2 separate regions of the Homo sapiens genome follow, and region 2 is linked to region 1. Evidence: fine-mapped QTL for protein levels in blood plasma. Region 1 holds a variant in brackets. A gene starts in the other region. All regions are shown on their reverse strands. Region 1 overlaps ARNT (aryl hydrocarbon receptor nuclear translocator). Region 2 holds the start of WFDC12 (WAP four-disulfide core domain 12).

The links. PIP is the chance, under the fine-mapping model, that this variant and not a neighbour inherited with it causes the effect. Protein levels are from antibody-based Olink assays in UK Biobank. Linkage for the fine-mapping came from a reference panel and not from the study's own genotypes, which makes the PIPs less certain.
Region 2: WFDC12 starts here. The variant in region 1 is fine-mapped to the plasma level of the WFDC12 protein (UK Biobank, PIP above 0.99).

What each region holds. Positions count from the first base shown.
Region 1 is chr1:150,828,803-150,844,361 of GRCh38, reverse strand. ARNT (aryl hydrocarbon receptor nuclear translocator) reads left to right here. Exons shown (of 22, transcript NM_001668.4): 5 at 1,894-1,938; 6 at 4,708-4,921; 7 at 7,869-8,082; 8 at 9,722-9,824; 9 at 11,963-12,028; 10 at 12,459-12,544; 11 at 14,382-14,458; 12 at 15,135-15,269. Among named protein-coding and RNA genes, the nearest start is that of CTSK, 28 kb to the right of the region's middle. RefSeq lists a cis regulatory region at 7,949 and an enhancer at 7,877-8,021. The variant T/C (reference allele first, on the strand shown) is at 7,805.
Region 2 is chr20:45,116,300-45,131,858 of GRCh38, reverse strand. It overlaps WFDC12 (WAP four-disulfide core domain 12), which reads left to right and starts at 7,394. Exons shown (of 3, transcript NM_080869.2): 1 at 7,394-7,490; 2 at 7,594-7,752; 3 at 7,916-8,434. The coding sequence starts at 7,412. The coding sequence ends at 8,013. It also overlaps a transcript of WFDC5 not described here.

The sequences.
Region 1 (15,559 bases):
TTAAAGGGATGGACTGTTAGACTGTAGGGAGGTAGATAGGAAGCTGTTGAAATAATAAGACAGCTATAAAATCATGAGGGCCTGGGTTACAGTGGCAGTGGTAACAGGAAAGGAGTGAAGTTAAGAGGTTTTTGAAGAATAATTTGTTTATCGAAACTAATTGAAATAAATATTTGTAAAGTCTTTAGGATGTGAACCATCTCTAAAATGAGAAGTTAATCATAGATATTTGGAGGATAGTTTTTCAAGCTTCATTGAAAAGTCAGGCCATCAGTTATTATTGGCAGTATCTTGATGAAATTTCAAAAAGCCATGAAAACATCGCATGAATGATTTTGGTTTTCATTTGTCCTGCTTAATGTGCATATATTTCATTCAGAAATACTGAGGTGGATTAGGGATTGTGGATCTGTAGTAGTAGTAGTAGTAGAAATAGGAATTTTAGATGCTTAACTTTTTTTTAAATAACAGAATTCATTCATATGATGTGTTAAGGTAGTGCCCCTCACATATCCTCCTTGGGATATAGAGGGTCTTAAAAGCTGAAAACTTCTTGAAAAACTTTTGGGATTATATGCATAGCCACCATGCCTGGTTAGTCCTGTTCTTTTAAAAATGACAGTAAGAGGCCGGGAGTGGTGGCTTATGCCTGTAATTCCAGCACTTTGGGAGGCAGAGGCAAAAGTTGCTCAACTTTTTGAAAAAAAAGAAGTTTGTAGTTTGTTAAGGAACTATCTAGAAGAAATAACCCAAGGAATGTAAAACTCTAAACTGCTGAATATCACTCAGTTCTCCTTCTCTTGTCATCAGAATATATGCGTAAATTTTTACATTCTTCTTCATTGTTACTGTGTTATTTTCTGCCTATTGACCATTTTATAAAAACATTCCCATATATTGATAAGGTTATTGTATTTGTCATTTTTAATAGCTAAATAATCTTTTAGCTTGTTAACCTGTCATACTTAGACATTTTATTCAGGGCCTCTTTATCTATATAAATATATTTAAAATGGAATTGACACATTCCTGACACAATGGCCTGCCAACACCTTGCTATTTCCTCAGTTGCCACCCATCATTACAGTATCTCAGTTTTCTAGAAAAATTTAGTGATGGTTCTTTGTATCCTTCTCCAGTGGAGAGGGAATTGTTACTTTTGATCCATTCCTGTGTGGCTATACTGCAGAGAAATGGCAAAAGGACCGAATCAAAGTTAATAATTATTTTAGGAACAAATCAATAATAGAAGATATGCCAGAAACCTACCTCTTAGAGTTATTTATATAATTTCTCCAGTGAAATCTGGTTGGTTATTTTGTCATTGTGTGGCACGTGCATGTGTTGTTTGTGTGAGAGGGAGAGAGATTATATTTGTCATCACTTGTTTGATAGTATCATCTTTAATGTACTCTGTCTTTAATTTCTTCATTATAGAATAGCACATGTGGATATCATTTTCTTTCCAGATTGGGAGCAGTGCATGAAAATGGTATTCCTGAATTCCCTTGGTTGGTTCTTGTTCAGACTCTGTATATCTTTGGTCCCTACAGAGATCGATTGGCAAAATGCTTTCTGTGTTTAGATCATGTTAATTTACTATATATTGGCTTTGCTTTTATGTTGACCTTTATCTTGTAAGTTACTTTTTCTTTATCCTAACAGATGGCTTTGTAGAGTTACAGGCAAGGTTCCTGCCTATAATTCCATTTCCCTCCTCTCTTCTCTGCATCTGTTTAGTTCTATATCCTTTTCTCTCTTCTTTCTCCTTTTCTTTTTTTTTCTCCCTCCATTTCCTCTCCCTCCCTCCTTCCTTTTTTCCCTTCCTCCCTCCCCCCTTCCTTCCTTCTTTTTTATTTTAATTTTAGCTTAGTTCATTAATTCTATTTTTAGGTCGGATGATGAGCAGAGCTCTGCGGATAAAGAGAGACTTGCCAGGTAGGAGAACAGTGTCTTTTAGCATGATGAAGCAGATGATGCTGCTTTTTCTATCCTTTTTCTTACTCTTTCTTTTCTTCCCCTTTCTCTTTGTATTTTTCCTTATCTGTGGCAAGAGAGGACAAGATTTTTTAGAAGTTTGAGTGTAACAGGAACTTTGGCTTCCCCCATCAGAAAGTGGGTGAGTTGAGGGAACTTTGCTTAGGGATTTAAGAAATTGCTATTAGTTTTAAGTTTTTTTTTCTTTTTCTCTTTATGTCAGTACTAAGTTTCACAGAACAAAAAGCTCTTAGAAGGAATGCAACCGTGCCAGTTGGTGCTTTAACAGGGAAATACTCTTTTTATCAGAAAACCAATAAATATATCTGTATTTGTGATTAGTTCCCAGTATTTAGGCCTCAGCATTTACTCCACACCTCTAGGAAACTCACACCTATTTTCCTATGAAGACTCACAGCCTAGATTATTCTCACAACAGAACTAGTGTTGCTTTGGTGACCGAATCCTTTCTTGCGGTAGTTTTCTAGAAAAGTTTTAGTTTCCTTGATGTGGCTATTTAAAAGACCAGGTTTCTGTACTTACGTGTCAGAAATCTGTCAGATACTAGGAAGATGAGTGCTTTATGTTTGAGAATAGAATTTTATGTCTTAGGCAAAGTGTAACTAAATATGGGCCTATGTGGTGAGACCCTTTTTGCCATTTAGAAAGGAGACTCTAGAATTCTCTTGGGAGACTGTTGTTTGTAATGTAGAAATGCTGCAGAAGAAATATGCATAGACTTTTCTGTTTTCTAGTATCTGTGATTTGGGGGTGACTTAGGAAATAGATCATTGATGCCAATACCCATTTTTACTATATTCCCCCTTTTTTCTACTATTTCCTCTTTAATCTGGGTCACAAACTCATTTTGCTGCCAGTTTAACTCGAGCTTCTTACTAACCCTTTCACTGTTCAGAAAATGGATTTGGCATGATGTGGTGGAGAAAACATTGTATTGGGAAGAGAGCAGCCTGGGGAAAGTCACTTACCTACTTGACCTCCCTTTGCTCTTCTCAGAAAAAAGAGATTTATGTTAGATTTTTAATTTTCTTACTTTCTTTTTTTTTTGGACAAAGAACTTTTGTTCAAGTAGAATTCTTAAGTGGTAACAGAAATAAATAAAAGAGATAAAGCAGGCCGGGCGCAGTGGCTCATGCTTGTAACCCTAGCACTTTGGGAGGCCGAGGCAGGCAGATCACGAGGTCAAGAGATGGAGAATATCCTGGCCAACTTGGTGAAACCGCGTCTCTACTAAAAATAAAAAAAAAAAAAACTGGGCGTGGTGGTGTGCGCCTGTAGTCCCAGCTACCTGGGAGGCTGAGATAGCAGAATTGCTTGAACCCAGAAGGCGGAGGTTGCAGTGAGCCGAGATCCCGCCACTGTACTCCAGCCTGGGTGACAGAGCAAGACTCCATCTCAAAAAAAAAAAAAAAAAAAAAGAAGAAGAGAGATAAGGCAAATATTTGAGTAGAAGCAGAAATGCAGCATGTTGCATGATTATCTCCTTGAGGCATCCCCATGGAGGACACTGAGAAACTTAATGGGCTTTTAAAAATTCCTGTTGGAAAACTGCTGGATTATTCCTGTTAACAGTGATATCTTTCTGTCTTAATTTTGAGGAAGTCAGTGTTGGAGCTGTGGTCTATTTACCTGGGTGAGATTCAAATTGTCTTGTCAGACCTTTAATCATCCTCCTCTCCATTCCACTCCTCCAGTTAACTTCGTCCCAGACTGGGGACCCATATGGGACTTTTAGTAGATGGTGTATCTTAAGTCTTGTAAGAAGTTTAGTGCACTGGCAGCACACCCAGATAAAGAAGGTAGGACTTTGTGCATTAATGGGCCAAATAAAACTTCAAAATCTTCAAATTCTGCCTTTTAATGTTGCAAATAAGAGAGAGGCTTACCATATTTTATAGACCAAGGAAATCTGTACTATCAATTCTTGTATCAGCTATGGAGCCACATACTTGAGTTGGCAAAAATTGGTCCTTTTATTTTCTGGCCTTTAAATAGTTGAATTAGTAAGCATGGGAGTTAACCAAGCTGAGGTTATATGTTCCATAGGAACTTAAGTGAGTAAAATCAGCATTTAAAAATACTATCTTTTTTTTTCTCTTGTTTTTTGTTTTTTGTTTTTTTTTGAAATGGAGTCTTGCTCTGCCACCCAGGCTGAAGTGCAGTGGTGTGATCTCAGCTCACTGCAACCTCCACCTCCCAGATTCAAGTGATTCTCCTGTCTCAGCCTCCCAAGTAGCTGGGATTACAGATGCATGCCACTGTGCCCTGCTAATTTTTGTATTTTTAGTAGAGACAGGATTTCACCATGTTGGCCAGGCCGGTCTCAAACTCCTGGCCTCAAGTAATCCACCTGCCTCCATCTCCCAAAGTGCTGGGATTACAGGCATGAGCCACCATGCCTGACCTGTCGTTTCTTAAAACAGCTTTTGTTCTGAGGGAGTGGTAATTTACAAAGGATGTGAAGTTTCCAGGAAATAGGGGGAAGGGAATTACATTATCTTCTTGTTCTCTGTCTGCCTTATTAGTTCTGTTTCATGCTTGCTTTGCATGAGAAGGTTGGCAAACCTTATTTTAACTGCTGAGACTTAAGCATCACTAAATCTGAATACCACATTCTTCAGCAGCACACTTGGTATCCATATCACTCTCCCTGCTACCAAATGACCAGATGTGACCACCTGGATGGGGCTTCTCTTTCTTTCCATGCAGGGAAAATCACAGTGAAATTGAACGGCGGCGACGGAACAAGATGACAGCCTACATCACAGAACTGTCAGATATGGTACCCACCTGTAGTGCCCTGGCTCGAAAACCAGACAAGCTAACCATCTTACGCATGGCAGTTTCTCACATGAAGTCCTTGCGGGGAACTGGCAACACATCCACTGATGGCTCCTATAAGCCGTCTTTCCTCACTGATCAGGTCTCTGGGACTTATAGTTCTGAGAGAGTCTGGAATCTGGGTGAATCTCTTGAAAGTTTTCGTTTTTTGGACAAGAATTCAGCTTTTCAGGAAGAAGTCAGACAATGGGAAAACGAATTTCAATCCTTGGCTATAACATTAATTAGCATTGGGACAATGAGAAGTAGAGAAGAGTTGTGAAAACTATTTAATAAGCTAATAAGTATTAATATTTGAGAACTTGACTCATGAATATAGCATATAGGATGGAAGAAGAACAGTGGAATCACAGAGGAAATGACTATGTCCATGGAACCAATTTTCTTTCTTGCCTTTAGGGTTATAGAAGATGGAAGAAATCTATTTCTTATCCCTGAAGCAGCTTCTAGTTTTAGTAATAGAATGAATCTGTCCCACCTTTGGTGATAGAAGAACTGAGAGTCTAATTGTTGCTTAGGGATGTGCTCTGTTACATGTGATCACTATGAAAAAAAGAAGGCGTAAACATTTTCTGCCTTTCAGGAACTTCATCTGAATATAAGTATGTGAGTGGCAGGATATCACAGAAAATAACAGGAAAATGCATAAAGAGAGGAATTGTATTTTTTAATTAGTAATTTTATGTGGGACTAGATAGACATACTGAAGGGATGGCTAAAGTGAATAGAATGGCTAGACTTGAGTGAGGATGGTTAGGGAAGACTTCTGAGGGTAAGGAAGCCATGTTCTGTTTTGGTTATTAAAATAACATGATCATTGCAGAAAAATTTGGAAAATGTAGGAGGTATAAGGAAGAAAAAAATTTACTTCAGTATCAATCAAGTATTCCCTTAATGCCACCAATTTAATCAAATGATTAGAAAGAAGGAGAGAATATAGTTTGAGAAAATGGAATAAGAATTTTCCAAATAGGATGGTCTACTTAAAACTACATACTTTGTAGCTATATACATTGAAATAGTTAATATGTTCTAACAGTACATGTGCAAGTATTCAACAGACTCCAGTTATGCACCTTTTGTGGGCAAACCAGGTGTGTTGTGCTGTGAGAAATAGAAAGAATGGTGAGACAAATGGTTTTCTGGTGGAAACAGACATGTAAATAAATAAATTAAACATAGAACTAGTTCTATAATAGAAGTGCTGTAATGAATCCTGTAAAATGCAGATATGGAAAATGAGTTGGGGAGTAGTGTTGTGGATTTTGGGAAGCACTTGAGCAAAAACCTAGAAGTGTGGAATAATTGGGTTATGCAAAGAAAGTCAAGTGGTTTAGCATGTTTTTGGTAGATAATAGGAAGGTAGGCTGGGATCTAATGATGGAATGTTTAGGTGTTAAAGAATTTAGATTTTAATTTTTATGCAGTGGGGAGACATAAAAAATGTATTAGATCTGGTAGCATTTTAAGGATTGATTGAAAGCAGGGCGACTACTTAATTAGTTTTGGTAAAAGATGACTAGGACAGTGACAAAGCATTGGAAAGTAGAATCGATAAAACTGAATTATCACTGGAATGTGAGAGAATAGTTAGATTTTGAGGCTTCTAGCTTAGGAGGATGCTGTTAAGAATATTGGAAGAGCACGGCAGGTTTTTTTTTTTAAGAGGGAAATAATGATTCAGGTTTTGGGATGTTGATGTTGAGTTGCTGGTAGAATATTTATAAATATTTTACAGATACTTGAAATTCAAGTCTGCTGAAAGCTCAGGAAAAAACGTTAGTCATGTCTAGGGCTATAGACTTGGTTATTATTTCGTAGTGGGGAAGAGTGAATATGGTTTCCCAGGAAGAAAGTATGGTATTAATAAAGAGGGCTTAAGATGAACTTTGGAAATGTCTACATTTAAGACTTGAACAAAGGAAAGGAAGTCTGAAACAGAAGAGGAAGCAAAAATTGGAGTACAGTCTCATAGAAGAAGGTAGGGAAAAATAAAATTTAAAGGATAAGATGGACGACATTGTCACATTCTGCAGAGAGGTTGAATAAAGTGATGAAGACCCAGGAAAAGGGACTTGAATTGGTAATTAGGAGGACATTAGTAACCTCATTAAAAATATATGTATGCTGTTCCTGGCAGAACAAAAACCAAACCAAACAGGAAAACAGTAGTTTAGAGTGAGAGTGAAGTGGGATTGAGAAATAATTGAAAGGTAAGAGGATAAAGCCAGTGAATATAACATTATTCTTAGTATAAGCTTGCTGCTGAAAAAGAGAGATGAGGTGGGTCAAACTGAGGGAAGATTTATCTAGAATTGAGAAAACTTGATCATTTTTATAGGCCTGAAGGGAAAGAGAGAAAGTGGGAATATTTGTCAAGCAAGATCCTAAAAAGAGACCAGAGAGGATGGAATTAAGAAGTCAATTATTGTTCATGGTAAGCCTTTTTTTTTTTGAGACAGGGTCTCTTGCTCTGTCGCTCAGGCTGGAGTGTGGTGGTATGATCTCGGCTCACTGCAACCTCTGCTTCCCAGGCTCAGGTGATCCTCCCACCTCAGCCTCCGGAGTAGCTGGGACTACAGGCGTGTGCCACCACACCTGGCTAGTTTTGTTTTTGTTTTTGTTTTGTTTTGTTTTGTTTGTTTGTAAAGATGGAGTTTCGCCCCATTGCCTAGGCTGGTCTTGAACTCCTGGACTCAGTGACCCTCCCACTTTGACCTCCCAAAGTGCTGGGATTACCGGCGGGAGCCGCTGTGCCTAGCCCAAGCCTTTTTATTCTTCTTGAATCCTGAGATAGAGAGGAAGAGGTGGATAGTGACATAGAGAAAGTGAGGAAACATGTATTAGAAAAAACTTTCTTATCGATGAACTACATTTAGGGTGGAAACCTGTGGCTGTGGATCAGGTGTGAACCAGCAGTTGCTTACGGAGAGATGCATGTGGCCTGAAGTGTCTTACTTCTTCC[T/C]GTGAATAGAAATACTTGTTTTTTCAGAGTAAAATATTAACTTCTATTTCTTTTTCTTGCGCAGGAACTGAAACATTTGATCTTGGAGGCAGCAGATGGCTTTCTGTTTATTGTCTCATGTGAGACAGGCAGGGTGGTGTATGTGTCTGACTCCGTGACTCCTGTTTTGAACCAGCCACAGTCTGAATGGTTTGGCAGCACACTCTATGATCAGGTGCACCCAGATGATGTGGATAAACTTCGTGAGCAGCTTTCCACTTCAGAAAATGCCCTGACAGGTGAGAGTTATGTGTATGGGAAATGAATGAGAAGTCCTTTCTTGTTTTTTTCCTGAGACTTAAGAGATGTTTTAGCTGTTAAATTGGTTTGTTGACTCTGGCAAGGCTTCAAGAATTTTCTACTTTAATGAATATAGTCAGTTCTTTTTATCCATATGAGATTATCTACTTTGTGGCTCAGCCTTAGAAAATATTTCATTGGTGATAATATTTTACATTTATCTTAATATTGGTATAAATAGAACAGTAAAAGCCAAACCTACAATACTTTTTTTTTTCCGTTCTAAAAGAATTATCCATGTTTTTATCTCATTTGTATGGATAATTATCTGGTATTTTTTCTACCTCCTGGTGCTTGGCTTTGTGCTAGGTTCAATGATAACAGCTTTTTATTCTATAGATATGGTTATTGGTCAATGTATAAGGTGTTTTCTGTTGTTGTTGTTGTTGTTGTTTGTATCTGTACTGTTGTTCTTTTTTTCTCCCCTATTTTATTATGTTCAGTCTTTTGGCCAGAGTTTGGCTAGAGGAAACAAGTCATATCTATTCTTGAGCAACTCTAGAAAAAAATTTAAAGTGGAAGCAGATAAAAAAACTGGTAGTTAAAATGCAAGAAATTTCAATATACTCATATTAGTGTTGTTGATCTTTAGTTTTCCTCCTTTTTTCCCACCCAAAAAAGAGACAGGGTCTCTCTCTTGCCTAGGCTGGAGTACGGTGGCACATCATAGCTTACTGTAATCTTGAACTCTTCTGGGCTCAGTAATCTGCCTGCTTACAGCTTCTTGAGTAGCTAGGAGTAGTTCATGTCACCACACTTGACCAATTTTTAAATTTTTTGTAGAGACAGGTTCTGTCTGTTGCCCAGACTGGTCTCAAACTCCTGGCCTTCAGCATTCCTCCTCCCATCTTGGCTTCTCAAAGGGCTGGGATTATCGGCATGAGCCACCACACTTGACCAGTTTTCCCCTCCTTTATGTTTTTATGATTTCATTTTTCTAGTTCTTCCTTTTCCCCAAAAGTTGTTCTTCGTTTCTGTATAATAAAGAAGACAAACAGATCTATATGTTTCTATAACATATAAAATTACTTGGTTTTTTTCTTTTTAAAATTTTTTCTTTTTATTCTTTTTTTTTTTTTTGAGACAAGGTCTTGCTTTATTGCTGAGGCTAGAGTACAGTGACTCTTCACAGGCACAGTCATAGCACACTACAGCCTCAAACTCCTGCCCTCAAGCAGTCCTCCTGCCTCAGCCTCCTGATTAGCTGGGACTACAGAAAAGTACTTGTTTTTCAACCAATGACATTTACTCTGTATGTATGTCTGTATGTGTATACAGATAATCAGCTATGAGAATATAGCCTTGCCTCTTGTTTTCTACTACTACTTTCCACTCCTACTTTTCCTTGCACAATGTTATTTTCAATGCTGCCTTTGAACTTAAGAGTGAGATTCATTGATGATAATTGAAGTATTTTAGGCTTGAAAAAAAATTCATCTCCTGCTTGGTCAGTTCTGTTATAAGCAAGGAGATTAAGGGCATGAATAGGATGCTTACTTATCTTTGCCTTCAGTATCTCTCCCCCTCTTCCCCACACACAAAAATGCACTCCAGACTGCTCTTCACATCTTCCTTCAGGGCGTATCCTGGATCTAAAGACTGGAACAGTGAAAAAGGAAGGTCAGCAGTCTTCCATGAGAATGTGTATGGGCTCAAGGAGATCGTTTATTTGCCGAATGAGGTGAGTGTCAAGCTGAGGATTGTGATTTGGTATAGGAAGGATCAAGAGCTGAGAGTTTTATTTCTGTCAGAGTTAAGTTGGATTAGCTCCAGTGGATTAAATTTAACTCTCCATACCCAGATGGATTGTAACACAGAATAAAGTATTTGGAAAGGGAACTAACGTTTCTGAACTTGCCAGACACTATGATAGGTGCTTTATATCTGTCATCTTATTTTATCCTCACAATTGCCTTGTAGTGTAAGATTGATGGTTACCATTTTGCAGATGGAAAAACAGATATAAAGAAATGAACTTGGCCAGGTGCAGTGGCTCAAGGCTGTAATCCCAGCACTTTAGGAGGCTGAGGCGAGTGGATCACCTGAGGTCAGGAGTTTGAGACCAGCCTGGCCAACATGGTGAAACCCCATCTCTACTAAAAAAAAACAACAACAAAATTAGACGGGCGTGGTGGCGTGCGCCCATAATCCCAGCCACTTGGAGGCTGAGGCAGGACAATTGCTTGAACCCAGGAGGTGGAGGTTGCAGTGAGCCGAGATTGTGCCATTACACTCCAGCCTAGGCAAAAAGAGTGAAACTCTGTCTCAAAAAAAAAAAAAAGAAAAAGAAAAAGAAATGAATTTCCCACTGTTACATACTGTTTGATACAGGATTTTGTTTTAATTCATAGTAGTCTGACTACAAAACCTCTACTTTTTCCCTGTTACAACACAAGGCAATATCCATTTACTCAGACCATTTCTTCTTTTTTTTTTTGGTTAGAAATTTGAGACTTCCTATGTCTTTCAGTAGGTGTTTAGTGTTTATAAATTATATACTGTACGTTTTAGGATTCTGTAGAAAATATGGTGGTCCTTTCTATACAGGTACAAAAGGCATCTCAGGGTCACAAAGTTCAGGCTATATAATGGAAATTGACTACATTGTACTGAGAGGATAGTTGCTAGAAATTATGGGTAGGATATTAAAGGTTTGCTTGGAGAGGCACAAAATTGAACATTATGTGGTTTAGTGATTTATTTTTATTTTTATTTATTTATTTTTTTGAGACAGAGTCTTGCTCTGTTGCCCAGGCTGGAGTGCAGTGGCATGATCTTGGGTCATTACAACCTCTACCTCCTGGGTTCAAGCGATTCTCATGCCTCAGTTTCCTGAGTAGCTGGATTGCCACCACAGCTGGCTAATTTTTGTATTTTTAGTAAAACAGTGTTTCACCATGTTGGCCAGGCTGGCCTCAAACTCTTGACCTCAAGTGATTCGCCTGCGTCAGCCTCCCAAAGTGCTGAGATTACAGGCCTGAACCACTGCACCCAGCGTGTAATTTAGAGTAGCTTCTAGACCCAGACTGCTGGATTTTGTTTTAATCCATATTCTATGGATTTGAATTCTAGCTTTGATGCTATCTTCTGAAACCTTGGATGATTACATGACTACATTGTGCTTTGATTTCATCATCTCACATTGGCGATAATGTTAATACTGACTTTATAAAGTTGTTATGAAGATTAGATGAATTAATATATGTAAAGATATTTAGAACAGAGCATGACACATATTAACCCTATGTAAGTTTTATTTTTGTTTTAAAGGATAGGGAGAGGGAAAGTAGCATTGGCAGGAGTATCCCAATATGTGGACATGGCTAATGCAAAGACATAGGCAAGAGCAAGATAATAATGAACTGTAGCAATTACATTAAGTTGTGGTTAATGTAGAGCAGGAGTAAGCAAACCACAGCCCTTTATTTGTAAATAAAGTTTTATTGGAACATAGCCATGCCCATATTTTTACATATTATCTATGGCTATTTTCATGCTATAATGCTAGAGTTGACTAGTTGCAACAGACTTTCTGGCCCGCAAAGCTGAAAATATGTACTATCTGGTCCTTTACAGAAAAAGCTTGCCAACTCTTGATGTTGAGAATGTTTGCATATGAAGAACATATGGAACATTTTGACTTCAAATTCTAAAAGTTTTAGAAATACTAAACTTGACCTATCTTTATCCTTCATTATTAGTAGCATTACCAATTTTCTATGTCTGGTTGTATCCAGAGCATGTTATTCTGCTATTACTGTGGAAAGTTCTTTGATAGGGCAGTCTGATTGCTTTTAATCTCTTTATTCCTTGAAACAGGTGTGGCAGTAGCTCTGTGGACCCAGTTTCTGTGAATAGGCTGAGCTTTGTGAGGAACAGATGCAGGTGAGATCCTAAGTGGTGAAAACCAAAGGGATGGCCAAATACCTGCAGAGATCATCACATTTTTACCTGTCTTACTGTAGTCGTTCCTTCAGCAGCTCTCACTTGCATCCCTTACCTCCCACTTAACATCCCTTACCTCCCACTTACTTTTTTTCTGGCAATATTTTCCTAAACTTCTAAAACTTCTCTTGAAAATCCTGTTTAAGGAAGTCGCTATGCTATTTTACCTACTTTCCTCCTACTGCATACCTTTTGGTTACTTTACTTTGGCAAGGGTAAAAATGTGGCGGTCATTTTTGGGTGGGAAAGATGATTATCCTGTTTTCTAAACTCCTAAGAGCATAAACTTAAAAGTACTAAGGCAGCATTGCCCTTTGAGTTTTACGGGTAGATTTTTTTTTTTTTTTTCAAACTCCTGTAACTCTTCTAGGAATGGACTTGGCTCTGTAAAGGATGGGGAACCTCACTTCGTGGTGGTCCACTGCACAGGCTACATCAAGGCCTGGCCCCCAGCAGGTAAGAAAGTGAAATAGTAAATATTTCCCCTTGGTACAGTTGGTTCCTCACAGAGTCCATGAAAGCTAATATTTATTATATACCTGGTATATGAAATGTACTTTTGTGTAAGATGAAAGAAAATAGGAAAAGAAAATGTACAATCCTTCCCTTCCATTATTGAGCTTTTATTCCAGTTGAGGAGATAGATAACTCAGGCTGGAAAATGATTCAGTATTGGCTGTGTCACAGAATGTGGTTTTTATGTGAACAAATTTATACTGAACATATGTATTCTAAGCATTTGTTGCAAAGAAACTTAGACATTGAATGCAGTTAATTTGAGAAAGATTTCTAAAGTAGGAACAAGACTTTGAGAGAAAAGGGGAAAATGCCTTTATTGTAATAACTTATCAAGAGGATATTCTCTGCAAAGACTTTAAATCAAGCTTTGAGCAGATTAGCTTTACCAGAACTTGAGGTCAAACAAGGAATGTGAGAAAGGTGATTGGGTTGCAGGATCAAAGTTTTAAGTTGGCTTGTCAGAGTTTCCAAATCTTAGCAACTTTATTACTTCCCTGCTGCCTGGGTATTATTGGAAAGTAGGGGTTTTGGGGAGACAGAAACTAAGAGAAAAGAGAAGCAAGGTGATGTGTTTTGGAAAAAGGTTAAACTTTGGATGTGGAGAAACCTGGATGTGATTCCTGTCATTGTTACTTATTAGTGGCATCACCTAGGGTAAGTTGCTTGACCTTTATAAAGCTCAGTTTTCTCATCTGTAATTCAGAGTTAGTACATCCTGTATAGGGTTTTTGTGAGGATTAGATTTAATGTAAGGAAAGCATCCAGCCCAGTGCCTGGCATATGGCAGGTAACCCAATAAAAGTAATTAATGTAATTTAAAAAAATTTAACTGAAGTAGTAATGACATTTGAACTACTTAGTCTATATACTATATAAGCCACACAGTTAAAGTATGTGATCTTTCATACCTCTATGTAGCATCAAGGAATACTATTTTTCTGGATAAAAAGAGTATAACTATGCAAAAAACAGGGGAGAAATGCAGTCTTCTTCCCTTTCTGTGTAAAACATTGGTTTTTCTCTTTTCCAAGGGACATGAATAACTATTGATGGTTGGTATAACTTCATTTTGGGTTGCTTGCTAACTTTAAAAGTTACAGATTAGGCAAAGCATAAATTTTCTGCCTATAACATGGTCATAGAATGGATGTCTTCATATGTGCCATATTTGGCCAGCATAGTTTTTTAGAGTACTCTGGGTAGGACTTGTATTTTCCAGTTTACTATAATTAACATGGGTAAAATGTAGGAATTAATATATATGTAAATACTTAAAACAATGACTGGCATATATGGTAAGTTTTATATACTTGTTTATTCTTATTTATCATTCTCTATTGCTTTATGCTTAGCCTCTTCATAACTAGATGTATTTTGTTTTGTTTTGCTTTTTGGTTTTTTTTTTGAGAGGGAGTCTCACTCTGTCTGTCGCCCAGGCTGGAGTGCAGTAGTGCGATCTCGGCTCACTGCATCCTCCGCCTCCTGGGTTCAAGTGATTCTCTCACCTCAGCCTCCCAAGTAGCTGGGATTACAGGTGCATGCCACCATGCCTGGCTAATTTTTGTATTTTTAGTAGAGATGGGGTTTCACTGTGTCGGCCAGGCTGGTCCTCAAGTGATCCGCCCACCTTGGCTTCCCAAAGTGTTGGGATTACAGGCGTCAGCCACGGTGCCTGGCCCATAAATAGGTCTATTTTGAATCTTTACTTGTCTGAGTTTTGAAGGCATTTGAGTTGGAGGTCCCCGTTAAACCTTTTAACGTCACGTTTCTGAAGGTGTTTCCCTCCCAGATGATGACCCAGAGGCTGGCCAGGGAAGCAAGTTTTGCCTAGTGGCCATTGGCAGATTGCAGGCAAGTATGAATTTTCCACATCTATATTCCCGTTCAATTAGAGCAGATCTTCAGGACTCATTCCTGTTAATTTTCTTTTACTTTCTGAATACAAATGAAGAATTCCATAAAACTCTCAAAATTTGAAGGAATATGGCATTTATAGTGACCATTGCTATTCTTGGATTTAAGTAAAGTTGAAAAGTATGAGAGGAGGGAGATCTTTTTCCCCTTGTCTTAATTTTAGCTTTACTATGCTTAATTTTCTATTTCCAGTTAATTTCCTTTGCCCCTATACAAAAGAAGAAAGATCCTTTTCATTGTATCATTACCTGACTAACAATAGAAAAGTGGAATTATTTTGATTTTTTCATAAGTATAGATAAGTTTCTTGGTTACTTGTACCATATCAACCTGAGTAATGAGTTCAGCATAGCCAGTATGTGGATTTTAGATTGAATAAACTTTATTCTTACTTTACTAACTTGGTAAAGTGTAAATGTATGGGAGCAGAGCTAGACCTTATGCCTTGTCTGATTGTGATTGTCATTTTTTTTTCCTTTTTGGATAAAATGTGAAAGTTTAGAAAGTCCTAAAACTGGGAATCTTATGTCTATGCAAAAGACCATGAGGAGATAGGAAATACATCTGTAAATAATGGTATCATTTTACCTCATTTTTATCTCTTCACTCTCAGGTAACTAGTTCTCCCAACTGTACAGACATGAGTAATGTTTGTCAACCAACAGAGTTCATCTCCCGACACAACATTGAGGGTATCTTCACTTTTGTGGATCACCGCTGTGTGGCTACTGTTGGCTACCAGCCACAGGTGAGGAGCTGGAGCTCCATTAGGCCTCCATTTTCCTTTGGCTATGTTGACATTATGTAATCATGTAGTTCCTAAGACAGCCAAAACATATCAACCTCAGTTAAGAAAAAGAGATCATCATATTCTGTTAGTACCTAACATTATTTTCAGCTTCCTATTAGGACTGTCATCTCATGTAGAGAAATATGGCTTGTCAAACCAGGTGGGAGCAGCAGGTACAAATATGTATTTATTTTTTGTTGTTGATATTAATACAGATGATTCAAAGGTACTCATATTAATTAGTTATA
Region 2 (15,559 bases), not on the chromosome of region 1:
TTAAAAGGGAGGGTGAAAAAGACTTCTTTGATGTAGCATCATGGAAGCTGAGACTTGAAGAATATGAAAAACTTAGCCAAGTTGTGGTCAAAGAGCAAGAGGTGAAGAAGAAGACATGTTCCAGCAAAGGGACCTGTATTTACAGAAGCCTTGAGATGGAATAGAATATGATAAAGTCAAACAGCAAACACTCAAGAACTAATATGTGTTTTATGTGATCATTCTGGAGAATGTGTGGTTTGTCAGTGGGAAGACGAGTTATCAAGTTATTTCTGTGACCCAGATAAGAAATACTGCAATAGCTTGGATTAGGACAGAGAGTCCCAACCTTGGCACTATTGACATTGGGGATGGACAATTTTTTTGTTGTGGGAGGCTGTCTGGTACGTTCTGGGATGTTTACCAACATCCTTGATCACTCCCATGTTTACTGCAGTATTATTCACAATGGCCAGGAGGTGGAAACAAACTAAAAGTTTATTGACAGGTGAATGCGGTAAAGAAAATGTGGTATTTACATATCATGGAATTTGAATAGCCAAAAAAGAGGGAAATCTTTTCATTATGCTACAACGTGGATGAACCTTGAAGACACTATGCTAAGCAAAATAAGCCAGTCACAGAAGGACAACTATTTCACAGTTCCACTTTTATAATCTTACGTGAGTTGTCTAAAGTAGTCAAACTTATTTAAGCAAAAAGTATGATGGTGGTTTCCAAGGGTTTCAGGAAGGGGGAAATGGGGGATTGTTGTTCAGTGGGTAAAGTTTCAGTTATGCAAGATGAAAAAGTTCTAGAGATCTGCTGTACAACATAGTGCCTAGAGTTAATATGGTACTACACACTTAAAAAGGTGTTACGAGGGTAGATCTCATGCTAAGTGTTCTTACCACAAGAAAATAATTTTTTTAAATCCAAATTTAAATTTTTCAGAAATTTAAGAAAATTATATAATACACAATTTAGAATACAAATGTAAGAACATTAATAATACATCAGAATGTTATTTAGAAACATGGAGATAAATATTAGAAACAGCTAGAAGAGCTAAAAGTGTTTACCTCTGGTATCAGGACCTCTGGGTATCAGGAATCAAGGTAAATAGGAGCAATGTAGGAGATTCCCATTGTAAACCTGGTTTTACACTTTACATTTTATACTGTGTACATATATTATTGTGATAATACTTTAAATAGAATTTCATATCTTTAAAACTAGGGAAAAAGTAGCTAAAGAATAGGCATAACTTCTTCCTGGTTGATCTTCCTTTAAGGAAGCATTTGCACCTTTGTCTGGCTCAGTGGAAGGTGGAGAAGGGGTTCAGATGATCATTTCCTGATTTTTAGGCATTAAATATTTTGGGATCCCACAATTTCTAACAAGGGCATTAATTCAGCTTATACTATTCAGTCAGGCACACTGTCAAGGCAAAGATTACTGTGATGTCACCTCTCATTAATATAAAGATATACACACACACAGACACACACACACACACACACACCCACGAGTCTCTCCTGCTGAAGCAAGTGCTTTAACAAGCAGAATATGTTCATACATGGTAGATAAATAAGGAATTAAATCACTAACATGTAAAATTGGGTTAATACAGTTTTTCATAAGGTGACTATGCCTTGTCCTGTCATATAAAACAAATCGAATGCAAAAATATTGAACATGGTATCTCTTGAGTGACACACAAAATAACAAACACTTCATCTCCTCCCTCTTATCTCAGTTTACCTATAGTCATTGCCCTACCAAGTGCGTGATGTGCTGTTATCCTGAGTTCTATCCTCTTCTTGATAGAAGTATTTAATACTGTGTTCAATGTCCTGGAAACAAGAATCTGAAACATGATTTTAAAAGAAATGCCTGAAGGCCAGGCATTGTGGCTCATGCCTGTATTCCCAGCACTTTGGGAGGCTGACGGGGGTGGATCACCTGAGATCAGGAGTTTGAGAGCAGACTAGCCAAGATGGTGAAACCCCATCTCTACTAAAAATACAAAAGTTAGCCAGCTTGTAGCCCCAGCTACTTGGGAGCTTGAGGCAGGAGAATCTCTTGAACCCAGGAAGCAGAGGTTGCAGTGAGCAGAGATTGCACCACTGCACTCCAGCCTGGGTGACAAAGGGAGACTCCATCTAAAAAAATAAATTAATAAAAATGTAAAAATAAATAAATAAAAGAAATGTCTTAAATACTGAGAAGTTTGAAATAATAAAATATTTTTGAATAAATGAGAGCATATGCTATTCACCACAGCAATAAGCTAAATGTTGCACTCCGTCAGAGATGAGACCGCTAGTGAGCCTAACACATCAGTTACTATCAGCTTCAAGTGATATTGATAAACAATTGTAGTGGATTAAAGGTCAAGTTTTTTTGTTTTGTTTTGTTTTTTGTTTTTTTGAGACAAAGTCTCGCTCTGTTGTCCAGGCTGGAGTGCAGTGGTGTGATCTCAGCTCGCTGCAACCTCTGCCTCCTGGATTCAAATGATTCTCATGCCTCAGCCTCCCAAGTAGCTGGGATTACAGGCATGTACTACCACACCCAGCTAATTTTTGTATTTTCAGTGGAGACAGTGTTTCACCATGTTGGCTGGCTTGTCTTGAACTCCTGACCTCAAGTGATCCGCCCGGCTTGGCCTCCCAAAGTTCTGGGAGTACAGGCGTGAGCCACCACGCCCAGCCAAAGATCAAGATTTTAATGTCAAGAGCATCAGCATAGAACTTTGCAGTTATCCAGTTTCATTTAGAGTTATACAGCTTCCTTACAAAAGGGAGGAACTGGCAAATCAACGAAGCGGATTGCTGTTTTAAGCCAGTACAGAAGTAAAAGATTGACGACAATGACCCTCCAGTATAACAACATTTAGTCCCAAGAATGATGATGTCCTTCATTCCACCTTTTGTACATACCTCAAAAGCCACAGTATTTCACCATACCCACTTACCAAGCAAACTCCCCATCTTTTGTCAAAGTAAAGTGCTACATTTACTACATAATTTCTTTATTAGGAACTGAAGATGTTTAACACTGTGGTCATGTTTTTATTGGGTGTGGGTTCTGTTTGTTTGATGTATTACTTATGAGACTGCACAAATATTGAATGTTCTACTTCAACTCTATTTTTTCCAGAAGCCCTATTATTTGTAGTGAGCAAAACTCTGTAACCTAATGATTTTCAGGAATATATATTCCACGTTTATGAGAAATATATCTTCCCTTTCATTCCCTGTCTTAGACTCCGCCATTTTGGTTCAAGGCTTTCCACTTTCTTGAAGCACATAAATAAATGATGCCCAAAAAAGACAATGAATGTGAAATCTGGTTAATGTAATTCACAAAATAACAGATTGAAGAGACAATCCATATATTTATTTCAATTGATGAAGAAAAGGCATTTGATAAAAATTCAACATCCTTTCATGAGAAAAACTCTTAGCTAACTAGAATTAAAAGGGAACTTTATTAACCTGATTCAGCAGAACATGGGATGAATTCCACAAGGTCACATGGCATGGGCTAAGGAATGCCTTTACTGGGTGAAACCAGTGAGCCAAGGATCAGCACTCCTAAGCATGGGATACTCCCAGCAGACACTCCCATCATTACTCGCTTCAGCCTACATTGAGGTGTTCTGAGGCCATGCACAGCTATTAGTCAGTGAGGCAGGACAGCAGCGTTTCTCAACATCAATACTATTGGCACTTGGAGACAGATCATTGTTTGTTGTGAAAAGCTGTCTTGTGCATTGTTAGATATTTAGCAGCAACCTCAGCCTCTAGACACTGGATGTGAGAAGCACATCTGTCCCAGTTGTGACAATCAAATATGTCTCCAGACATTGCCAAAGTCCCCTGGGGACAAAATAACCACCTTTTGAGAAGGTAGTTTACTACTACAAAACAGGAACATTGTCCCCTGCAATTTTACCTTCTTATAATATGAATATGAGAAGTTCCTTATGGGGCTTGCTTCCTAGACAGTCTAGGTTTCTAGGAAACCTAAATGTAAGCCTAAATGTATTTATATATATACATATATAAACATATTTTTGCTATGTATATATGTATATATATATGTAAACATATTTTTGCTATTGAGTTGCAGTTCTTTATATATTTTGAAAATTAACCCCTTATCTGGTAGGTAGTTTGCAAATATTTTTCCCATCTCACAGGTTGCCTTTATTACTAAATATTTTACATGTTATTGCTTTTAACGTATTACATTTTTCTAACCAATATTTCTAGTGTATAGAAAGCAGCTGACTTTTATATATTGATTTTTGTGTCAGCTAATCTTGAAAAATTGTCTAACTCATGATGTATCTGTAGTTTCTTTTGTGTTTTTATTATTGCATCATTTGCAAACAATGGCTTTTCTCGTCTCCCATTCTAATACTTATTTCTTTTCTTTTTCATTATATATATGTGTGTGTACATATGCATATATATATATATATACACACACATATAAATATAAAGACCCAATTAAAAGTGAATAAGACTTAAACAGACATTTCTCCAAAGAAGATATACAAATGGCCAACAGGTATGTGAAAAGATACTCAACATGTCTAATCATCAGGAAAATGAAAATCAAACCATAAGATCACCTCATACCTGTTAGGATGGCTTTTATTTTAAAAAGAAAAGAAAAAGAAAACAAGTACCGGTGAGAATGTGGAGAATTTGGAACCCTTGTGCACTGTCAGTGAGAATTTAAAGGAGTATAGCCACTACGGAAAACAGTATGGAAGTTCTTCAAAAAATTAAAAATAGAGCTATCACATGATCCAGCAATCCCCCTTCTGGGTATTTATCCAAAAGAATTTAAATCAGGATCCCAAAGAGATATTTGCACCTGCAAGTTCATTGCTGCAATATTCACAATAGCCAAGAAATGGAAACCTAAATGTGCATTGACCCATTGACAGATAAATGAGGGAAGGAAAAAGATTATATACATGTACATATATATGCATACCATGGAATATTATTCAGCCATAAAAAAGAAGAAAAGTCTATCTCATGCTACAACATGGGTGAACCTCAAGGACATTATGCTAAGCAAAATAAGCCAGTCACAAAAGGACAAATATGGCATAATTCCACTTTTATGAAGTGTCTAAAGTAGTCACTTATAGAAGCAGAAAACAGAATGGTGGTTCCAAGGGTCTGGGGGTGGGGGGAATAGGGAGTTGCTATTCAGTGGGTTTCAGTCATGCAAGATGAAAAAGTTCTAGAGACCTACTGTATGACACTGTGCCCACAATTAACAATACTGTTAGTATGCACTTAAAAATATGTTAAGAGGTCATGTCTTATAGTATATATTTCTTACCACAATTTTTTAAAAAAACACGGTGTTGAGCAAAGCATGCAAAATACAAAAGAATACTTAGGCCATAATTACGCTTACACGAAATTAAACAACACGTATCACTAAGCAAGCCATAGCAAGAGAGCAAAACTTTAAAGGAAAACATGAGGATGATTAACAGAAAGTTCAAGATAGTGGTTACCTCTGAAGTAGGGATGGTAATGTCCTATTCTAAATTGATAGGTTCATAGGTGTTTATTATTCTTTTTCAAAAGGTATAGAATGTTGATTACATTCTTTCATATGTAGGATTTATTTTACAATACTTTTTTTAAAGAAGTATCATCAACAGTCAATTACAAATGACATTTTGGGGAGAACCGGAGAAACAAATATGAACTGGCTATGAGATGACATGCAGAAACTATTAATTATCTTAGATATGATAATGGCTTTGTGATTATATTGAAGAATATCCTTATTCTTAGAATTTGCATGCTGATGTATTTAGGAAATAGGAACATAATGTATTCAATTTCATTTCAAATATTTCAACAAATGTAGCTATAGGTATTCTAAAATATCCCAAACTATTAATAATTGTTAAATCCAGTTGTAGGTATACAAGTATCATTGTTCTGTTATTTCAATTTTTCTGTATGTTTAAAAAGTTCATAATAAAAAGGTGGAGGAGGAAATAGCCAATACATTCCAACATTCTAGTATTTGTTTATGAACTTCCCAGATTCCATCCCTGGTATCCAAATGATCTGAGTCCAGTGATATGACTGGTGAGATTGTAACCAAAGATTCACCACCTAATAAGGAGTAGGCTCACTTCCAGGAATGGAGGTATCCTCCCTGCCTCCACTTAACCCCAACTCAGTCCCTTCCACACTTCAGGATGTGGAACACCCCAAACCCAAATCTTTGCATTACTCAGGGGTCCTGTTAGTAAATGACAGAAATCCAATTCAGACCAGCTTAGGCAGAAAGGTGAATGTATTGGGTGGTAACATAACCCTGGGTATGAGTGGGGCTGATCTCAGGAAAAAGTTTAGTGAAGGACTAGATATCCTCTAAATTACTCCCTGTCCATCTCTCATCTCTTTTTATCAGCATCTTAGATTTATCTTCTCAGAATTTCTCTCTCACCAGGGCCAGGACCAAATTTCTGGAGTTTCTGGGCTTATATCTGCAACTTTTCCAACAGGAAGGATTTTCCTCCCTTTAGTACTCATTCAAAGAAAGGACCCCAAAAGCCTGGTCACACACACACACACACACACACACACACACACACGCACACACGTCCATGTCTTCTTCCAAATCCAGGAATTTGGGGGATGCAGGGGCAGAGGAGGGAAAACAAATCCTATGAAGATGATACAGTATAATTATTATGCTCATTGTATGAATGAGGAAACGGAGGCTTAGAAAGGTGAAGCTGCTTTCAAAGTCACACAGCTGGTGACAGGTCCAAAATCTGCTTTCCTCCAGGCCACATGAGATTGGCGGGGGGCAGGAGCACACGGTGCTGGAGCGCAAGGCTGAGAGTGAATGTTCAGGACAGACATTTTAAGCACTGCCATTCAGATTCTTCCTTGGGGTGAGGTGAGAACTGAGAACAAGTCCGGGGCAGCACAGGAAGGAGGGAAGATTTTGGTCCCAGGTGAATCAGGCATGAAGAGGGACTGATAGAGAACACGGTGGAGTTGAGGAAGTCTGGCCCTGCCACTGCCTCGTGTGTGAACTTGAGTAATTTCATGCCCTTTCTGTGCTTCTTTTCCTCCTTCCATAAGATAGTTTGGCCCTGGTGGCGCCTAATGGTCAATCACGTGTCCATTTCTTCTCCTCGTGTGAAGAACGAGGGTCGCTCTTGGATTTCTTCATCTATTCCAGTGCAGAGCCTTAGGGAAAGCCCCAAGTCCCTCCTCAGAAGGGGCCATTTCCAAATAGAGCTGGGAAGTGCAGCCTCCCTTGCCATTTTGAGCCTTCAGCTCCACCCACTGGCATGCCCAGCAGGAACACTATAAAGCCAGGCTCAGCCCAGCTCCCAGCCAAGCACCTGCCTGGCAACATGGGGTCCAGCAGCTTCTTGGTCCTCATGGTGTCTCTCGTTCTTGTGACCCTGGTGGCTGTGGAAGGAGTTAAAGAGGGTGAGCAGACATGGTGGAGCTGGGTGGGGCTGGGCTGGGGAGAGGTCCTGAGGGGCCCTCTGGGGCTGGAGTTCTCATATCACCTTGTGGCTTCCTCCACTAGGTATAGAGAAAGCAGGGGTTTGCCCAGCTGACAACGTACGCTGCTTCAAGTCCGATCCTCCCCAGTGTCACACAGACCAGGACTGTCTGGGGGAAAGGAAGTGTTGTTACCTGCACTGTGGCTTCAAGTGTGTGATTCCTGTGAAGGAACTGGAAGAAGGTAAGGAGACCTGCCTCCCAGGGCTGGGGCTGTCCCTTCCCTGCCTCTATCTGACCCATGAAAGTTCGGAGGAATTAGTCCCTTTAGCTGGTGTGGGGAGGGATGGCTAAAGCTGGCAGGGCCCTCAGAGACCACCTAGTCTGAACATCTCCATTGTCCAAAGGAGGAAACAAGGATGAAGATGTGTCAAGGCCATACCCTGAGCCAGGATGGGAGGCCAAGTGTCCAGGCTCCTCCTCTACCAGGTGTCCTCAGAAATGATGCTGGGTCCTTTCTACCTCTGGGGGTCACTCTCACTTGGCACCTGCCCCTGAGGGTCCTGAGACTTGGAATATGGAAGAAGCAATACCCAACCCCACCAAAGAAAACCTGAGCTTGAAGTCCTTTTCCCCAAAAAGAGGGAAGAGTCACAAAAAGTCCAGACCCCAGGGACGGTACTTTCCCTCTCTACCTGGTGCTCCTCCCTAATGCTCATGAATGGACCCCTCATGAATGAAACCAGTGCCCTTATAAGAGACCCCAAAGAGCTGCCTTGCCCTTCTGCAATGTGTGATCACAGCTAGAAGGCACTGTCAGAGAAGAGAAACTGGTCCTCACCAGATGCTGAATCTGCTGGTGCCTTGATCTTGGACTTCCCAGCCTCTAGAACTGTAAGAAATAAATATTTGCTGTTTATAATCCACCCAGTCTATGGTAATTTGTTATAGCAGCCCAAACCTGCTAAGACAACCTAATAGTAAAAAAAAAAAATCCTATTCAACATTATCAAAGTGAATAAAATATAAAATACCTACAAATAAATCTAGAGATGTACAGAAATTTTCTGAAAGGAAACCCTAAAACTTTATTAAATGACATTTTAAAAGATCTGGATAAATAGACTAAACTTTTCTACAGAATAAATAAATAAATGTTTTTTAAAAGATATGCTCTTCCCCAAGCAGGAAGCCTCCTCAAAGTGTTCACCTTGGTCAGCATAATTTATACCTGAAATATAATTAAAATTAAAACCCACTGGGTTTTGCAAACCCTAATGAAATAATTGATTCTGGCAATGATTATCCATGGCTTCTGAATATTTACAGGGTGCCATTTCATCACCCTGTGGTATATTTACAGTTTGTAAGAGGGAAAACACAAGTTTACAACTTGAGGATTCAGGTACACACCGAAAACACATTAATCTGTCTCCACAATGCTAAAAATGGGTAAAGCGGACCTCCGTTCCTCCTGAGGTGATGCAACACAAAACACACAGCATCATTCAAGAAGGGCTCCTGCCAAGACAGTTGAGCATGAACCTCACCAAGCCTCTACAGCTAGCATTCATCTATGGGAAATGTGAAGGACAAAGAAGATGAAAGACATCACAGGGAAGCAACATGGGACATTCTAAAGAACAATTTGTCTGTTTTGTTCAACAAGTCAATAGCATGAAGAAGAAGAAGGAGGGAGGAAAGGAGAATAAAAAAGAGTTGGAGAGATTGTTCTAGATTAAAAGAAACTTCAGATACATTACAGCCAATGCAATATGTGCACCAACAACCATAGAGTCACTTTTGAGACAATAAGAAAAACAAGATGCAAATAGAATATTAGATGATGTTAAGAAACTGCAGTTAATTTTCTTAGGTGTAACAGTAGGATTGTCATTATGTGAGAAAGTGTCCTTAGTTTTTAGAGATGCACACTGAAGTATTTAAAGGTAAAGTATAAGATCGGTTGGATTTACTTTAAAATACTTCAGCCAAAAAAGGGGTGGGGATATGCATGAAGGAATTCTTGTAAAATGGTTCATTGTTGAATCTGGATGATGGGTATGTAGGCTCCATAAAAGTATTTGCTGTTCTTTTGTGCATTTTTGAAAACATTTTATGATAAAAACAAGGGTTTGTTTTTGCAACTTAACAAAATGATCATTAGGTTCACATGGAACAATAAAATACTTGTAACCTGGAAAATTGAAAATGTAGACTAATGAAGGGTAATGGATACCACCAGTCACTAAAACATATTATGGAGCTACAACAATTACAGCCACAATACAAGCATACCTTGTTTTATTGTGCTTTGCAGTCATTGCATTTTTTACAAATTGAAGGTTTGTGGCAACCCTGCACCAAGCAAGTACATTGGCTGCATGTTTCCTATAGCATGTGCTCACTATGTGTCTTTGTGTCACATTTTGGTAATATTCACAATATTTCAATTTTTTTCATTATCATTACATCTGTTATGTTGGTCTGTGATCAGTGATCTTTGATGATACTTTCCTAATTGTCTCAGGGTGCCATAAACTGTGCCCACATAAGACAGTGAATTTGATCGATAAATGTCACATATGTTCTGATTTCTCCCCCAACCGGCCATTCTCTGTTTCTCTCCCTTGGAACACAACAATGCTGAAATGAGGCCAATTAATCATCTTACAGTGGCCTTTAAGTGTTTAAGTGAAAAGAAGAGTCATGTCTCTCACTTTAAATCAAAAAAAGCTAGAAATGATTAACCTTAGTGAGGAAGGCATGTTTGAAAACCAAGAAAGGTCCAAAGCTAGGCCTCTTTTACCAGTTAGCCAAGTTATGAATGCAAAGGAAAAGTTATTGAAGGCAATTAAAACAGCTACTCCAGCAAACACACAAATGGTAAGTGAAACAGACTTATTGTTAATATGGAGAAAATGTTAGTGGTTTGGATAAAAAAATCAAAACAGCCACAGCATCCCCTTAGCCAAAGCCTAATCCAGAGCAAGGCCCTAACTTTTTTCAATTCTATGAAAGCTGAGAGGTGAGGAAGCTGCGTAAGAAAAGTTTGAAGATAGCAGAGGTCGGTTCACAAGATTTAAGGAAAGAAGCCATCTCCATAACATAAAAGTGTAAAGTAAAGCAGCAAGTGCTGATGGAGAAGCTGCAGCAAGTTCTCCAGAAGATCTACACAAGATAATTGAGGAAGGTGGCTACGCTACACAACAGATTTTCAATGTAGATGAAACAGTCTTTTATCGAAAGAAGAGGCCATTTAGGAATTTCATAGCTAGAGAGAAGTCAATGCTTGGCTTCAAAGCTTCAAAGGACAGGCTGACTCTCTTATTAGGGACTAGTGTATTTGGTGACTTTAAGTTAAAGCCAATGCTCATTTACTATTCCAAAAATCCTAGAGCCTTTAGGAATTATGCTAAATCTATTCTGCCTGTGCTCTATAAGTGGAACAACACAGCCTGGATGACAGCACATCCATTTACGGCATAGTTTACTGAATATTTTAAGCCCACCGTTAAGACCTACTGCTCACAAAAAAAAACAATTTCTACTTTCCTTTTGTAATATTTCTACTTATTGACAATGCATTTGATAGCCCAAGAGCTCTGACAGAGATGTACAAGACAATTAATATTTTCATGCCTGCTAACACAACATCTATTCTGCAAATCAAGGAGTAGTTTTAACTTTCAAGTTTTATTATTTAAGAAATACATCTCATAAGGCTATACATTATTTAAGAAATACATCTCATAGCTGCCACAGATGGTGATTCTTCTGATGGATCTGGGCAAAGTAAACTGAAAACCTTCTGGAAAGGGCTCACAGTCTAACTGCTATTAAGAACATTCATGATTCATGGGAGTAGGTCAAAATATCAACATGAATAGGAGTATGGAAGAAGTTGATTTCAACCCTCATGAATGACTTTGAGGGGTTCAAGACTTCAGTTGAGGAAGTCGTCACTGCAGATGTGGTGGAAATAGCAAAAGAACTAGAATTAAAGTGGAGCCTGAAGATGTGACTGAATTGCTACAATCTTATGATAAAACTTGAATGGATGAGGTGTTGCCTCTTACGGATGGGCAAAGAAAGTAGTTTTGAGAGATAGAATCTACCCCTAGTAAAGATGCTGTGAACATTGCTGAAATGACAAAACCAAGAATTTAAAGTATTATGTAAACTTAGTCGATAACACAGCAGGGTTTGAGAGAATTGATTCCAACTGTTTGTTGTTGTTGTTGTTTTCAGAGACAGGGTCTTGCTCTGTTGCCCAGACTGGAGTGCAGTGGCATGATCACAGCTTACTGTAACCTTGAACTCTTGAGCTCAAACAATCCTCTTACCTCAGCCTTCCGAGGGGGTAGGATATAGGCATGCACCACCATCCAGCTAATTTTTTAATTTTTTGTAAAGGTAGAGCCTCACTGTATTGCCCAGGCTGGTCTCAAACTCTTGGGCTCAAGTGATACTCCTGCCTTGGCTTCCCAAAGCTCTGGGATTATAGGCATGAGCCACTGCACCATGCCATGACTCTGATTTTGAAAGAGGATGTACAGTGTATAAAATATTATCAAACAGCATTGCATGTTTGATAGTATTTCACAATATGTGACAGAGAAATCTTTCACAATATACCTTTGTATCACACCTGCACATGTACCCCCTAATTCTAAAATGAAAGTTGAAAAAAAGGAAGAGTCCATGGATGCAGCAAACTTCATAGTTGTCTGATTTTTTAAAATTGCCACAGTCAACCTATCCTTCAGAAACCACTACCCTGATCATTCAGCAGCCTCAACATCAAGGTAAGACCCTCCGCCAGCAGAAAGATGATGATGACTCACTGAAGGCTTACATGATTATTAGCATATTTTAGCAATAAAGTATTTTTAAATTAAGGTACATACTTATTTTAGACAAATGCTATTTTGCACTTAATAGACTACACTATAGTGCAAACATAACTTTTAGATACACTGGGAAACCAAAAAATCCACATGGCTCACTTTAATCCCAGCATTTTGGGAGGCCAAGGTGGGAGAATCACTTGAGTCCAGGAGTTAGAGACCAGCCTGGGCAACATAGGAAGGCCCCCGCCCCCCGCATCTCTACAAAAAATAAAAACTAACCAAATATTATTGCAATATTCTCTTTATTTCAGTGGTCAGGAACTGAACCCACAATACATGCTTGTCTGTGCTGGCATAAGAATAAACAGTCAAAAGAAAAGAACGGGCAAGGCACGGTGGCTCACGTCTGTAATCCCAGCACTTTGTGAGGCTGAAGCGGGCAGATCACAAGGTCAGGAGATTGAGAGGAGCTTGACCAACATGGTGAAACCCTGTCTCTACTAAAAATACAAAAATTAGCTGGGTGTAGTGGCATGTGCCTGTAATCCCAGCTACTCAGGAGGCTGAGGCAGGAGAATTGCTTGAACCCGAGAGGTGGAGGTTGCAGTGAGTCAAGATCATGCCACTGCACTCCAACCTGGGTGACAGAGCGAGACTCCATCTCAAAAAAAAAAAAGGAAAAGAAAAAAAATGAAAACCCATAAACAGCCCCTGTTACAATAAGACTTAAGTTATTGATAAAGTTTTAATTCTTAATCAATGGCAAAAGTTTAAATTATTCACTAAATGATCATAGGACAATTGCTTAATTACTTACAAAAAAAAGATATTTCCTATTTCACGCTCTATACCAAGATAAACTTCAGCTAGATTAAAGAATTATCATGTCTTTCAAAAATCACAAAATAATAACAAGTAAATATAGTGAATATTTATCTAACATCAGAGTCAAAAAGCCTTTTTAGCATAAAAATAAAAGGAGAAAATATGAATGAAAAGATTGAATTGATTACCCCAAAATTTAATCCTTTGGTACTAAGCAAAAATGAGGAAAGAAATATTTGCAATATAGCATCAAAGCATTTATCAAGTTTATCTCATTCAGTTCTCAGAACCATCCTATAACACGTATATGATTATCTCTATCTCTACTGGTATACAAAAATAAACAGGGGTTTTACAAAATTAATGTCAAACAGATAGAGCCTATGGCACCAAGATTCAAAACTAGGTCTGCCTAACTCCAATATACATCTGTTCACTACTGCCCCTTGTGTATGACAGGTTAATAGATTCTTAATATATAAACAGCTCTTAAAACTCAAAAATAAAAGGACCCCCAATAAAAATGAGCAAAATACAAAAACAGGCAATTCACAGAGAAAGGATACAGTCAGTATGCGAATATGAAGAAATGCTCACCATCATGGGTATTAAGAGGAAGAGGAAGACAAATTAAAATGAAATATTGTTTTCCGTTAGCAAAGATTTTATTTACTTATTTTTTTAATATCCTGTATGTAGTAAGAATATCCACTAAGGATCTTTGGCTGTGAGCAACAGCATCTGAGCTTTGGACTGTTCTGTTTAGAGAACTGGCTTATCTGTTCAAGACTCTAATGAAGGCGTGGGCAAGTTAGGGGTGGAGAAGAGTGCAGTGGGTGTAACCTGGATCCAGTGCCCTCAGCTTTGATAGGAGAAGTACCTGCTGATTGGCAACCAACCAGAATGACAGCAGTCAGGAGGCAATGGTTCCACCAAAGGAAGAGACGCTGGGCAGACGAAACAATAGAGGTCTATGGCAGGGCAGGTGGAGGCTCTTGTACACTCACTTACTTCCTTTCTGAAATTTAATTTGACCAGATATATCCAACGCCTGGAAACATGACTGTGCCTTTTGACCTAGCATTTCTAACTTTGACAAATTTACTTTAAGAAAACAGTCAGAGATGTGACTCCAAAATGTACACAAAAAGATGGTTATCACAGCTTTATTTATGAAAGTGGAAAATTGGAAACCTCCATGTTTCATAATAGGATACTGATTGTGTATATTTTGGCATATCTTTTTTCCCTAAAAACTTTACTGAAGTGATGTTTTGACATATAGATCTAACAAAACAGCATGTAGCCATCAGAAAACATGATGTTTAGAGAACATTTCACAGCACAGGAAAATGTCTACAAAATAATTTTAATTTAAAAAGCATTGGCATGGTGGCTCATGCCTGTAATCCCAACACTTTGGGAGGCCGAGGCGGGTGGATCACCTGAATTCAGGAGTTTAAGACCAGCCTGACCAACATGGTGAAACCCCGTCTCTACTAAAAATACAAAAAATTAGCCAGGCATGGTGGCGGGCGCCTGTGGTCCCAGCTACTTGGGAGGCTGAGGCAGAGAATTGCTAGAACCCAGGAGACGGAGGTTGCAATGAGCAGAGATTGCCCCATTGCACTCCAGCCTGGATGACAGAGGAAGACTCCGTCTCAAAAAAAAAAAAAAAAAAAAAAAAAAGAGCATTTCATGGCTGAGCACAGTGGCTCACCCCTGGAATCCCAGCACTTTGGGAGGCCAAGGTGGGAGAATCACTTGAGTCCTAGAGTTAGAGACCAGCCTAGGCAACATAGGAAGACCCCCCATCTCTACAAAAAATAAAAACTAGCCAAATATTGGGGCGCATGCCTATAGTCCCAGGTACTCAGGAGGCTGAGGCAGGAGGACTACTTGGGTCCATGAGGTCAAGGGTTCAGTGAGCCATGATGGCACTGTGCACTCCAGCCTGGGTGACATAGCGACATTCTGTCAAAGACAGAGAGAGAAAGAGAAAGAGAGAGAGGAAAGAAGAAGGAGAAGGAGAGAAAGAAAGAAAGAAAGAAAGAAAGAAGGAGAAAGGAAAGAAAGAGAGGAAAGAAGGAAAGAAAGAAGAAAGAAATAAAAAAGGAAAGAAAGAAGAAAGAAAAAGAAAGAAGAAAGAAAGAAAAGAAAGAAAGAGAAAGGAAAGAAAGAGAGGAAAGAAGGAAAGAAAGAAGAAAGAAATGAAAAAAGGAAAGAAAGAAAAAGAAAAAGAAAGAAAGAAAAGAAAAAAGAAAGAAAGAGGGAGGGAGGGGTGGAGGGAGGGAGGGGTGGAGGGAGGGAGGAAGGAAGGGCTCATATATTTGTCCTCCAAAATAAAGCTTCCAAGGAGGTGCCAGCATTCCA